Regions from separate parts of the Homo sapiens genome. Here regions 1, 2 and 4 are each reported to be linked to region 3. Evidence: microRNA targets listed by miRTarBase, many of them from high-throughput screens and not tested one by one. Region 3 holds a microRNA gene; each other region holds the end of a gene's coding sequence.

Region 1 (3,246 bases), not on the chromosome of region 3:
TGCTGTTCTACCCTGAGGGCATTCCGCAGGCATCTTAGGAACTCAATCTTGAAGGCTCAAGCTAAGCAAGTGAGTTCAGCTTGTACTCATCACCCAGAATTCTCTAGTAGTCACTTTTACCTCCAACTTCCCACTCTCTCGCCTCCAACTAAAGGGTTCCCAAGGTCAGTTCTGGCTTAGCTACACTGTTCATCTTCCACCTCCTTGTCATGCCTGCAGCAAGCCGAATTTCTGTTCTCTGAGAGGCTGACCCAGAGCTCCTCCTGGGTGACCAAGCTCGCTTCTCCCTGGGGACCAAAGGGCAGCATCATCGGCCAAAGACAAAAAGAAACCCTGGGGAAGACATCCTCCCTTACTTTCCTGCCTGCTAGGGTGGGGGCCGAGGCAAAACTTGCTCCTACTTTTCTACTTTGCCCTTCACATTAACAACAATCTGAAGGGCATTAAGGTTTAATGTGTTCTCTGCGGATTCAAACGAGTTCCTAAAATTAAGTACTACACTCTATTACTTATTAATCACATCTGATTCAGAAGTTTTTCTTCACGTACTTCCTCATTTTCTGGACTTTGAACTTCCCTCTCATGTTAGAGCCAAGCAGCTGTAGCAAACTAGCCATTATTTTTTCCTGCATTGCATAAAATAGAATAACACTCTCCAAGTGTAATCCAGCTTCTGTGATTTATATTGATGAGCATCTCAGGACTCTGCTCCACACCAAGGCTTGTGACCATCGGAAATGTTGCAGATCCAGTTATGGCAGGATGCATGCCTCTATTCTCCAAGGATTCTCTATTCTACCCTTAACCAATGATCTGGCCTCATGACAGCAGTCTTCTATTGCAGGGACATGGTCAGCAGGGAGGAAATATGCTTACGGGGCAGCACACTTGGATTCCTCTAAAAATCATATACTATCCCTCTAAAATCACCTATATTTTTCCATCTCCCTGTCCTCTAATCAGTAAGATATTTAAGCATGTGAACCCCTATTGAGATATTGGACAATCACTCTGTAATTCTTTCTGTGTGCATGGTAGTTAATAAATGTGTATGCCTTTTCTCATTAATCTGCCTTTTTGTGAGTTGATTTTTCAGCAAATCTTCCGAAGGGTAAGGGGATGCTTTCCCTTTGCCCTGCAGTTGGTAATAATTTACTCATGGCAGCACATGGTACAGAAGGTAGAAGGTTACTGAGCGAGTGACCCACTGTCAGGAGACTGGCCCGCGATCAAAGTGCTTGGCTGGCTCATCAGAGGGCGCTGATTTTGCACTGATTTTTACCAGCCCCTCAACCACCAACTCCTGGGCAGCCACCCATGGGAGGTAAGGCTCCATTGCGGGGGTCAGTGGACATTCATTATCACACAGGGGCTTTCTCATTTTCTTTTCTAAAATCCTTAATATAATAGTATCCTGTGTACGTCATCTAAATGTGACCTTTATGTTTTCTATGAAGGACTATATATATATATATACGTATATATATATATATATATACACACATATATATATATATACATATGTATATATATACATACATATATATATGTATATACACACACATATGTATATATATTCTACATAGAGGCACACTTCTGATATATGAAAGCATAAGATTACAACCAGCTGTGATTTTTATTTATTTTAGCTTCTAAATTTAAAATTCTCAGATTAATGTAACATAATCTGTTCATTTAGGGATTCGTGTTTAAGTTCTATGCTTTAGTGCTAGGTGGCTGCAAATCACAATGTACTTTCAAAACAAAGTATCTTAACCTTTTAATAAATCCTTTTCATAACCTGTTCAATTCAAAAAAATGTTTATAAACATGTTAGACATCTGACACCATTCTATCGCAAGAGGGTAGAAACATTTATTGCAGCAGAATACTATGGTTATTCACTCTCAAGTTTATTATTCCCCTTATTTTATTGTAGCAACTCTGGATTCTTTAGTATAAAGAGAAATCAAAAGAAACAAAATATCTATAGTCTTAGTTTCAGAACTACACTAGGATCTGGTGACCTAAACCATATGTACAGAATATAAACATATTTATACTTTATATGTACATAGTTAATGGTTACCTATGCATTATAAATAGTAAGTTTAACTTAGATTCTACAAAAATAATCATTTTGGGTGGGTACATGCAAACCAGTACACATAAACCTATTTATAAAACACATCTCTATGCTTTTTTTTTTTGCTTCTAAATATAAATTTTGCTATTTAGCCATCAGCTAAATGATCTAAATGCAAACCCCAAAGTTTCCAGTTAAAAGTATAAAATCTGCTTCTAACCACAGCAGCATACTGCTTCAAGTATTCTCCTCCTATGTAAGGTCGAGATAATTTTGTCACATATGAATTTTAGGTGGACATCTCATTTCCTCACATATTAGACATCCTGCTGGGGTCACAGCTTCTTTGTTCCATTTGTCTTTTTTTGTTGTTTTTTAATAAGACATTGCAAACAGTAGCTATTTCTTAAAGTGACATAATTTTCGCTTTTGCATTCTGATAAAAATGAACATACTTAAGCCTCTTCCTTGCACCCTGACCCTGGTGCTCTAGCATAATGCAACAAATCCTACGCTCAATGGTTTGCAGGGCCATCCACGCAGGCAGATGACTGGGTGGCCACAAAAGGCTCATTTTGCTTCTGGTCCTCTTTCATGCCAGCTGCCTGGTCTGTGATCGAGGAGAAGGACAGTTGGTCATGCTCTATGATGTGCACCTGATCCTCGTCCTTGTCCTTCTTCACATAGAACATTTTTCTGAATTTTTTCAGCTCATGGAGTTCACAGAAGGTTTCCAGAACTACCAACATGGCAATAAGGCCAAGTAGCAGGTAACCTGTGTGAGAAACAGGACACTGTCTTAGTGTGATCTCAACATGGATAAATCAAGTAGCGAGTGATTTACCTCCCCACCTCATGCCAACACAGTGTTTGTTAAGGAATAAACTCATTGCCAGTTTCTTAATTTTTAGAAGTGTTTTTAAGTTCATGGTTCAAAGAGGAACTACCCATTATTAAAGAGTGAAAGACAATGAAGAATGATTTAACCTCCTATGAACTTGGATTAGTTAGAATCACAGGCTGCAATTTTTGAGAAAAAAAAAATACTTGGGGCTGATGTGGCATTATTAAAGACACATAACATACTGCACTTACCCAAGTGTGATATTTTATGCAAGGAGGGTTTGCCACCTCTGCTTTATAATCAGTGGCTCACAAAA
Region 2 (3,000 bases), not on the chromosome of region 3:
TGTTTCCTCATCTGGAAAATGGAGGTAGTAGAAGTCCCACTGCTCAGGGCCGCTGTGAGGACTAGATGGCGGGGAGTGAGGTGCTTTGGGCAGGCAAGGTGCCTGGCTCCGGGCAGGCATGTGTCCGGGGAGTAGGGGCCCGCCTCAATCCCCCTGAGCTATCCTCTCACCTTACAGCGAGCAGTACAAGGCACACTTCTGGCCACGGGACCTGGTGGCCTTCTCCGCCCAGCCCCTGCTCGCTGCCCCTACCCACTATGCCGGGGACGCCGAGTGGCTCAGTGACACGGAGACATCCTCTCCATGGGATGATGACAGCGGCCGCCTCATCAGCTGGAGCGGCTCCCAAAAGACCCTGCGCAGCCCCCGCCTGGACCTGACTGGCAGCAGCGGGCACAGCCTCCAACCCCAGCCCCGAGATGAGCTCTAGGTGAGGCCAGGGCGGGAAGAGGCCCCAGCCCCGTAGACCTTGGCTTGCTCTCCCCTTTGATGGCATAACTGTGTCTGGGGCTGTTTTCCCCTTCTCAGCCTTCTCTCTCCCTCTCCATCTCTAGCTTTGCCTTTATGTTTGTTGTTGTTGTTGTTTGTTTGTTTTTTTTAGACGGAGTCTCGCTCTGTCGCCCAGGCTGGAGTGCAGTGGCGTGATTTTGGCTCACTGCAACCTCTGCCTCTCGGGCTCAAGAGATTCTCCTGCCTCAGCCTCCCCAGTAACTGGGATTACAGGCACCCACCACAAGGCCTGGCTAATTTTTCTATTTTTATTTTTATTTATTTATTTATTTTGAGATGGAGTCTTGCTCTTTTGCCCAGGCTGGAGTGCAGTGGCATGATCTCAGCTCACTGCAACCTCTGCCTCCCGCGTCCCGGATTCAAGCGATTCTCCTGTCTCAGCCTCCCGAGTAGTTGGGACTACAGGCGCCCACCACCACGTCCGGCTAAATTTTGTATTTTTAGTAGAGACAGGGTTTCACCATGTTGGCCAGGCTGGTCTTGAACTCCTGACCTGAGGTGATCTGCCCGCCTCAGCTTCCCAATGTGCTGGGATTACAGGCGTGAGCCACCGCGCCTGGCCTTTTGTATTTTTAGTAGAGACAGGGTGTCATCATGTTGGCCAGGCTGGTTTTCAACTCCTGACCTCAAATGATCCAGCCGTCTCGGTCTCCCAAAGTGCTGGGGATTACAGGCGTGAGCCACTGTGCCTGGCCTCTGTGTCTGTCTATAATTGTACCTTCAGCTGTCTCCGCATCCCTCTCTAGCTTTTTCCCTCTCTGTCTGTCTCTGCCCCTGTTTTCCTATATCTGTCAGTGTCTGTCTGTCTCTGATTCTGTCTGACTCTAATTCTCTTTCTCTTCCTGCTCCTCCTGTCCCACCAGGTCCAGGTGATGACTGCAAAGCAGTGTCCAGGAGCAGGCCACTACTGCCCAGAGAGCAGAGGAGGAGGTTGTTGGCAGGGACTGCAGATCCTGTCAGACCTGGCCACCACCTTGGGCATGGCCACTCTGCCCTCTGGACCTGTCTTTCATCGGGAGAAACCACTCAGAGATGGATCCCATTCCCTAAAGGTCTCACAGCAAAGGAGCAGGACTCCCAGGCCCCTGTACCCTGCCTGGCCTGATTCAGGGCCTTGTGGCCCCCAGCTTCTGTTTCAAGCTGGGCAGACCCCAGGATCCCTTCCCTCCCTAAGGACTCAGCTGAGGGGCCCCTCTGCCCCCTTCTACCTCCACCTCAGCACCCTCCCCCAGCTTGATGTTTGGGTCTCCCCAGCACCCTCCTCCCTGGCCGGTGCAAAGTACAGGGAGGTAAAGCAGGACCCTTGCAGACATGTTGCCCAGCACACAGTAGGCCCTCAATAAAAGCCATTTGCACTTTAAATATATATATGTATGTATATATATGTATATATATATATATATATATATGTATGTATGTGTATGTGTATATATATATATATATATATATATATATATGTATGTATGTATGTATGTATATATATATTTTTTGACACAGGGTCTCCCTCTGTTGCCCAGGCTGAAGTGCAATGGCGCAAACCCAGCTCACTGCAGCCTCAACCTCCTGGGCTCAGGCAATCTTCCTGCTTCAGCCTCCCATGTAGCTGGACCACAGGCACATGCCACCATGCCTGGCCACATTTTTTTTTGTAGAGACTGGGTTTTGCATGTTGCCCAGGCTGGTCTCAAACTCCTGGGCTCAAACAATCTATCCACCTCGGCCTCCCACAGTGCTGGGATGAGAGGCGTGAGCCACTGCACCCTGCCACTTTATATATATACATATATATACACGTATATACGTATATATACACGTATATATACATATATACGTGTATATACACGTATATACACATACACGTATATACACGTATATACACATACACGTATATACACGTATATACACATACACGTATATACACGTATATACACATACACGTATATACACGTATATACACACACGTATATACACGTATATACACACACGTATATACACGTATATACACACACGTATATACACGTATATACACACACGTATATACACGTATATACACACACGTATATACACGTATATACACACACGTATATACACGTATATATACGTGTATATATGTACACATACGTGTATATACATGTATATATGTATACATACATATATATACATGTATATATATTTGTTTGTTTTTAAGACAGAGTCTCGCTCTGTCACCCAGGCTGGAGTGCAGTGGTGTGATCTCGGCTCACTGCAGCCTCCGCCTCTTGGGTTGAAGCGATTCTCCTTCCTCAGCCTCCCTAGTAGCTGGGATTACAGGCATGTGCCACCACGCCCAGCTAATTTTTGTATTTTTACTTTATATTTTTTAACTCATGGCTGAGCCTCTGCATCTCAGCTGGCCTGGGAGGAGGCTTCCTGATCTATGGTTGAGCAATTGGAGGGACAGAGAGGGGAGGACAGGTGAGGAGTCAGGCCGATCCAGCATCACCTCTGTGC
Region 3 (3,000 bases):
GAAGTTCCTGTTAAAGAATAACAGTGGGGGAAGTTTCTCAAGAAAATAGTTGGAAGCAGGGATCACAGATGGGCTTTCACTGGATTGCCATCTCTGACAGTTAGTACTGGCGGCCAGACGTGGAAGTGCGTGGGAGCGTGGCCGCATCCGTGACTTACTAGCAGTGTTTGCCCAGGGCCTGGGACATGGGAGTGGTGGGGCATGTCCCAAATGTGCTTTGATATTTACAGCGTTACAGTCTAATTATTCTTCACTCTTTTCAGTCACTGCCTCCTCTGACCGGCCCTTTATTGTGAAGCCTACATTTCCTTTGGCGTGAAACTGGGCCAGAGCTCCTCAGATCCTTAAAAGTCAAGTGTCTGAGGCAGCTTTAGGTCAGGGTCTTTGAGCCCTATCAGGCTTTAGGGGTGGAGTATGGGGAGAAGGCCCTTTCTCCTAGGAGGGGACTCCTATATAACTTTCGCCAGATTCTGTAAAAGATTTAAGACCTAAAACTCCAGTCCTTTGCAAGTTGGTGGCGGGCTTTCGTTCTGCTGTCCTCCTGCCCGATCGGCAGGGTCGGGCTCCTCTGCCCGGCTCTTCTCTGTGCTGGTGTAATGACGCCACCGCGAGCGGCTTCTCTTCCTAGTCCAAAAGGTTCCCCCTTTGCTCCTGAGGGCGTGTGGATTTTTGCATCAAGAGCAGGTAATTTTCTACTCTCTTTAAGAGGTGAAAGGAGCCTGATCATAGTATGTGCTCAATAAATATTGTTGAATGGATGGTTGAAATAATTACACACTTCTTTTCCCAAACAGCTTTCCCGTTGAAATTAGTTGGTGTTCTTATTTAGTGTTCTTTGAATAGAATCACATGGATTGGTTTCCTTGGCTACCTGTTCAGCTTTCCTTTCCCTACTCCTTTCCCTACTCCTTTCCTACTCCTTTTCCTACTCCTTTCCTACTCCTTTCCCTACTCCTTTCCCTACTCCTTTCCTACTCCTTTCCCTACTCCTTTCCTACTCCTTTCCTACTCCTTTCCCTACTCCTTTCCCTACTCCTTTCCCTACTCCTTTCCCTACTCCTTTCCCTACTCCTTTCCCTACTCCTTTCCCTACTCCTTCCCTACTCCTTCCCCTACTCCTTTCCTACTCCTTTCCCTACTCCTTTCCTACTCCTTTCCCTACTCCTTTCCTACTCCTTTCCCTACTCCTTTCCCTACTCCTTTCCCTACTCCTTTTCCAGCTTGAGTCTTCAAGAGGGAGCCTCAACTGATTTCTAAAACCGTTTGTACCTGGTGTGATTATAAAGCAATGAGACTGATTGTCATATGTCGTTTGTGGGATCCGTCTCAGTTACTTTATAGCCATACCTGGTATCTTATACCACAGATCATGGCCCGTTGAACAACATTTTAAGAGATTTCTAAAGGGAAATTTAAAGCGGTTTAGCATTATTTTGTGATTGTCTCTAATTTACTGATCACAACTCTTATTTCAGAAAGGTAATTAGATATTAATTAGATGTTTATTGCTTGCTTTAATTTTATAGTTTTTTGTAGATTTTTAATCGGTATTCTGGTAAACTGCTGTTCTAATAAAGTGGCTGTAACAATTTTGAGTAAGGTAGTAAAAAGGTATATGTTCCATTGGGTTACATTTTCCATAAAACTCCTTTTACTGTTGTATTTCTCTTCTTTTTTTTGAGGGTCTTGCTCTGTCACCCAGGCTGGCGTGCAGTGGCGTGATCTCAGCTCACTGCAGCCTCAACTTCCTGGACTCCAGTGATCCTCCCACCTCAGCCTCCTGAGTATCTGGGACCACAGACATGTGCCACCATGCCTAGCTAATGTTCCTGTTTTTGTGAGAGACAGGGTTTCACCATGTTGCCCAGGCTGGTCTTGGACTCCTGAGCTCAAGCAATCCACCTGCCCTGGCTTCCCAAAGTGCTGGGATTATAGGCATGAGCCACCACGCCCAGCCCTGTTGAATTTCTTTTCAGTTGCGTGTAGTCTTCTGTGACTGCATGTAACACAAAGATGGTTCTTTTAGCTAAATATGGTAAATGAAACATGTAAAACCAAATATTTCAATGTGTTATTCATTGAAGAAGGATTGAAAAGGACAAGTTTTGGGGACTTCTGCTTGATTGTTTTGTTGGTTTACATTGATATGTACAAACCTTATTCAAATTCAAATAAGTGGTTATAATTTTCTCTTTCCCAAAATAAAATATTTATTTCCCTTCTAATGACCCCTAGTCTCTCTCAGGGGCTCTCTGGAGAAGGCAAATGTAGAAGCTACATGTTGCCACCGGCAGCTTCAGCTTATGAAAGGACAATCGCTGATAGATTGATAGAAGTTTCTCTGTTTCCTTAAAAGACAGTGGGAAGTTATTTCCTTTGTGGAGGAGGAAAGGGATAGCAGTTTCCTGCTGTCCATAGGAAGAGGTATTCAATTCCTTCACTGTTACTACTTCTGGAAATTATGTAGGGGAAAGGTCTAGGTAACTATAAGGCAACTTAAGACTGTCCTCGTAATTAACTTGCATAGCCTGTGCTTGTGGGCAGACCTCTGGACAACTGTTAGAGGCTGGAGGTATTTCGATGCCAAACTGGTCCAGAATGTTGAAGCCTGGACCTGTCTCTGGAACGTTTGATTTCCAGAAGAGTTCTGGGGTAAACTAGCAAGGAGCCTCAACTCCACTCAAGTCTGGACATAAGACCCAAGTTAGTTTCAGATGTCACTAATAAAAGGTGGCACCATTTGGCACTTTGTAGCTCTGTTACCAGCTGTGTGTCCCCTGTCTCAGTGAGATTAGAAAGCTTGGTATCCTGTACTTGTTTTTGTTCCTGGCACTAGTTCTACAGACAGTGGGTACTCCATGAATGTTCCTAGATTAGTGCAAGAAGTACCAATTTATGCTATAAAAACAGCACTTTACTCCATTTCTTAAGGAATTAAGACTTTCTGAAGATCATTTTAAAATAGAAAAGGTTTTACAGTGTAAATCTACCATGATGTTG
Region 4 (3,246 bases), not on the chromosome of region 3:
AAAAGTCACACTCTCAGAAACTGACTCCTTCCGCAGGGATGCTGGGAGGGAGTTACCAGCTTTCTGGCATGAATGGGTCCTCCCGCAGGGGCACACATGGCTCAGGCTGGAGTGGAGGGGCTGGCCATGCATGCAAGGTGGGCTGTGGTGGGTGGTGAGGAAGGGAAAAGCGACCGTGAAAGCTGACCCCAGACTCAGTCCTGGGCCCCAGCCAGGCTGCTTGAAGGGTCTGATACACCGCCCAGCCTCAAGTGTGGACAGAACATCCATGCCAGGAATAGGCTCCTGGGCTCTCCAGTGGGAGATGAGATATTTACAAAGGAAGGGGATGGGAAATATCTCCTATCTTGGAAGATAATTGGGGTTTGCTAGGGAATGAGGAGAGGGGGAAACCCAGATATTTGGCTTGAATAACCCAGAAGGAAGAGCACTTTGGAGGGACTTTGGTCACCAGGCACAAGGTTTCACTCTGGGAAGCAGGGGGTGGCCAGTGGGGCCTCTGCCCCTGCTCTCCACCTTCTGCAGACACCCTCCTTTCCAACTCCCTGAAACAGAACGTCCACACTGACACAGCTCCTTGGAGGAGAAAAAATACAAAAGACACACACGCACCTATGTGTGCCATACACACCCATGTCCCCGCATGCTCACACACTCGCTCAGGCCTGCAGAGTCAGGGACAGCTCCCCACACATCCTGGGAGCTGACTGCTGGGCCCCTGGCTTGCTGAAAAGTAAGGGGGCCAAAGGCTGGGACATGTGCAACCCCTCCCAATGCTGAGCCCCACACAGTCTAGGGAAGGCCAAGGCCAGGGCAAGGAGACCCTGGCTGCTTCAAGAACAAAGGCCCCCTACACTTCAGGCTTTACTTACACATATAAAAAAGGATAGGAATTGGTTTATCCCCAAGGAAGGCAATAAAGCAATATGGAAAAACAATAAATACTTCTTGTCAATTTACCTATTCTTTTTTTAACCTTTTCTTACATTTTATTAGCTTACAGATTCTGTCAGTATGTCTCATGTATATATTATATAATATTTATATATCAGTACAATGCCTCTCTCTAGGGGACTCGCATAGGCTTAAGAATGGAGTCCTGGTGAATTTTCCATTCTGGCTTAGAGTCCTTAAATGGTGGTCAGGTGTTTTCCCAACTGTCCAGTGGACCTTAGGCCCTTTGGCCCAAGTGCAAGCCTTCTGCCCTCTGCTGCATGGGCAGCGTGGCTCAGCTAGGGAAACCAAGGCAGAAAGGGTGACAGTGAGGCTTTGGCATTGTAGGTAGGCGATGTGGTGTGCAGGCAGCAGGCCCAGGAGCTCTGCTGAGGTCAGAGGGTGCCTGCAAAAGCCAGACCCTAAAACACTTACAGAGGGGAGGATAAGGACTCCAGGTTTCTGGCCGGAGCCTCACTGAGCAGAAAGTAGGTTCCCCAGGGAGAATTCCAACACAGGGACCCTGCAGAATAGAACAGGGCTGGGCAGAGCAGCAAGACTCAATCCCCAGCCCCCAAAAAGGCATCATGCAGGTAAGCAGGTCTGAGATAAGGCTGGTCCAGGGGCATGAAACCCAATAACAAGGCTGAGAGGTGGGAGCTAAGGCAGAGTCCAGGGCCCCAGCAGGAGCAACTTGCCTTTCTTGCTGCTGAGCCACATGCCTTGGGGAAGACACCCCGAGCTCAACAGCTGCCTGTTCTGACAGATCTCTTCCTATGGATACACATATCTCTACCTCCTCAAACCAAAGCTCCAGGCTTCTGGCCAAGGCAGGACAGGGCGATGCCATTGCAGACCCTCCCACTCCTGCTGGGGTCTTTGTAGAAGAGAAGGGTCTGGCGGCACCCAGGGTCACTAGAGTGCAGGTGCAGGCACCAGGAGAGAGCCTCTGTCACCCATAGCTTGGTTGTTTGTCCCTCCCCTGCTGCACTGCCACCACCAACCCTAATCTTTGGACAGTATGCATGTGTGTCTACAAACACATGGGACAAGGACAAGCCGAGCTGTTTATAATTCGAGTGGATAAAGGCAGATCTAGATCAATGTGTGAGGATGTGGGTGCAGACACACACCCACACGACAATATAGTGGAGGCACAGCAAAGAGACCTGAGGTGCCTTGGGTCTGAGATACTTTCAAGCAAACAAGTTCTTCCACTTGATGTCCCACGGTGGCTCTGTTTGGTTTGACAACCTACCCCACAGGTGGCCAGAAAAAGATTCTCCCAGCTTGATTTCCCCTTGCAAAGCAGTTGAGTTAGGGAGACAGAGCTTTTCCATTCCCCCAAAAAATGTGGATTCCCAAGGAGGTTTGTTCCTTCTCTTTTGAGGACATCCATCTTCTTAGGGGAGGGAGGGGGTGTTAGGTGGACCTGGTTAGTTTTGGAGGCTTTGGGTTTTTGCAGTTTCCATCTACCCAGGGGAATCCAAGTTCTTCTCCTCCATCTTTCTCTCTCTCTCTCTCTCTCTCTCTCTCTCTCTTTTCCCCCTCCCCTCTGCAATTCACTTCCCTCTCCCCACGTTGCACTTTCTTCTCTCCTCCGAAATTGGCCCAAAGTCCTCCTTCTGGGTTCAAGAGTGGTCAGGATTCATGGGTCCCCTCCCCACAAGCCCCTTCCCCATGGCACTGGCCCTGGGCAAGGGGCAGGGTTCATCTCTTTTGGCCGGCATTCAGCATGACCTTGGAGACGAAGTTGACGATGGCAGAGGCCGGCTGGTTGGGGTCAAGCTCAGCAAAGAGGTGGCAGGCGTTGTCCGTGGTGCTGCCCTGCTTCCGGGCCACGAAGCCGAAGAGCCTGCAGGCGGGAGAGGGCAACGGGCATGAGGGAAGGGCAAGTGGAACCCCAGGAGGTGGACAGCAGCCCAGGTGAGCAAGCTGGTCTCAGGCCAACCTCTCTTCCCCATCCCTCCAGCAGGCCTCAGCATCAGGGACTCAGAGAGGTGCAGAAGAGAATCCTCTGTGCACTCCCCTGACCACAAGCCAAGTCCTAGAGACAGTGTCCCACCTTGTTTAAGGGTGGGCAGAAATCCCCTTTGAAGGGGTGCGAGGGGAGCTGCAGAGGATTGACAAGGCTGGATAGTGAGGGGTGGGGAGGAGACCAAAATAAAATGGGAACATTCCTAGACAGGCCTCTCCCCGCCCATCCCAGCCCTACCCCTACTGACTGTTCTTACACACAACACATATGCCAATCAGGAAAGTGCTGTCTGCCTGCAAACGGCTCAGCCTCCTCAGACACCACAAGGTCAGGGA

The links. The annotated mature microRNA hsa-miR-340-5p reads UUAUAAAGCAAUGAGACUGAUU and lies in region 3 at 1,279-1,300, shown strand. An mRNA with a match to its seed (bases 2 to 7 or 8) in the 3' UTR can be bound and repressed. Matches are read on the target gene's strand: a 7mer-m8 pairs with bases 2 to 8, a 7mer-A1 pairs with bases 2 to 7 and ends in A, and an 8mer does both.
Region 1: the mRNA of KCNK1 is a reported target of hsa-miR-340-5p. Seed matches in the 3' UTR shown: 7mer-A1 at 2,179-2,185, 7mer-A1 at 2,097-2,103, 7mer-m8 at 1,958-1,964 and 7mer-A1 at 1,823-1,829.
Region 2: the mRNA of CERCAM is a reported target of hsa-miR-340-5p. The part of its 3' UTR that is shown has no 7-base or 8-base seed match.
Region 4: miRTarBase lists TNS1 as a target of hsa-miR-340-5p. The part of its 3' UTR that is shown has no 7-base or 8-base seed match.

What each region holds. Positions count from the first base shown.
Region 1 is chr1:233,670,886-233,674,131 of GRCh38, reverse strand. It overlaps KCNK1 (potassium two pore domain channel subfamily K member 1), which reads right to left. Exons shown (of 3, transcript NM_002245.4): 3 at 1,618-2,861. The coding sequence ends at 2,602. Among named protein-coding and RNA genes, the nearest start is that of MIR4427, 48 kb to the right of the region's middle.
Region 2 is chr9:128,435,476-128,438,475 of GRCh38, forward strand. CERCAM (cerebral endothelial cell adhesion molecule) reads left to right here. Exons shown (of 13, transcript NM_016174.5): 12 at 178-430; 13 at 1,374-1,872. The coding sequence ends at 430. Among named protein-coding and RNA genes, the nearest start is that of CERCAM, 16 kb to the left of the region's middle.
Region 3 is chr5:180,013,661-180,016,660 of GRCh38, reverse strand. MIR340 (microRNA 340) reads left to right here and starts at 1,264; the gene lies at 1,264-1,358. All of the region lies in intron 2 of RNF130 (ring finger protein 130), which reads left to right.
Region 4 is chr2:217,801,816-217,805,061 of GRCh38, forward strand. TNS1 (tensin 1) reads right to left here. Exons shown (of 33, transcript NM_001387777.1): 33 at 1-2,788. The coding sequence ends at 2,644. Among named protein-coding and RNA genes, the nearest start is that of DIRC3, 13 kb to the left of the region's middle.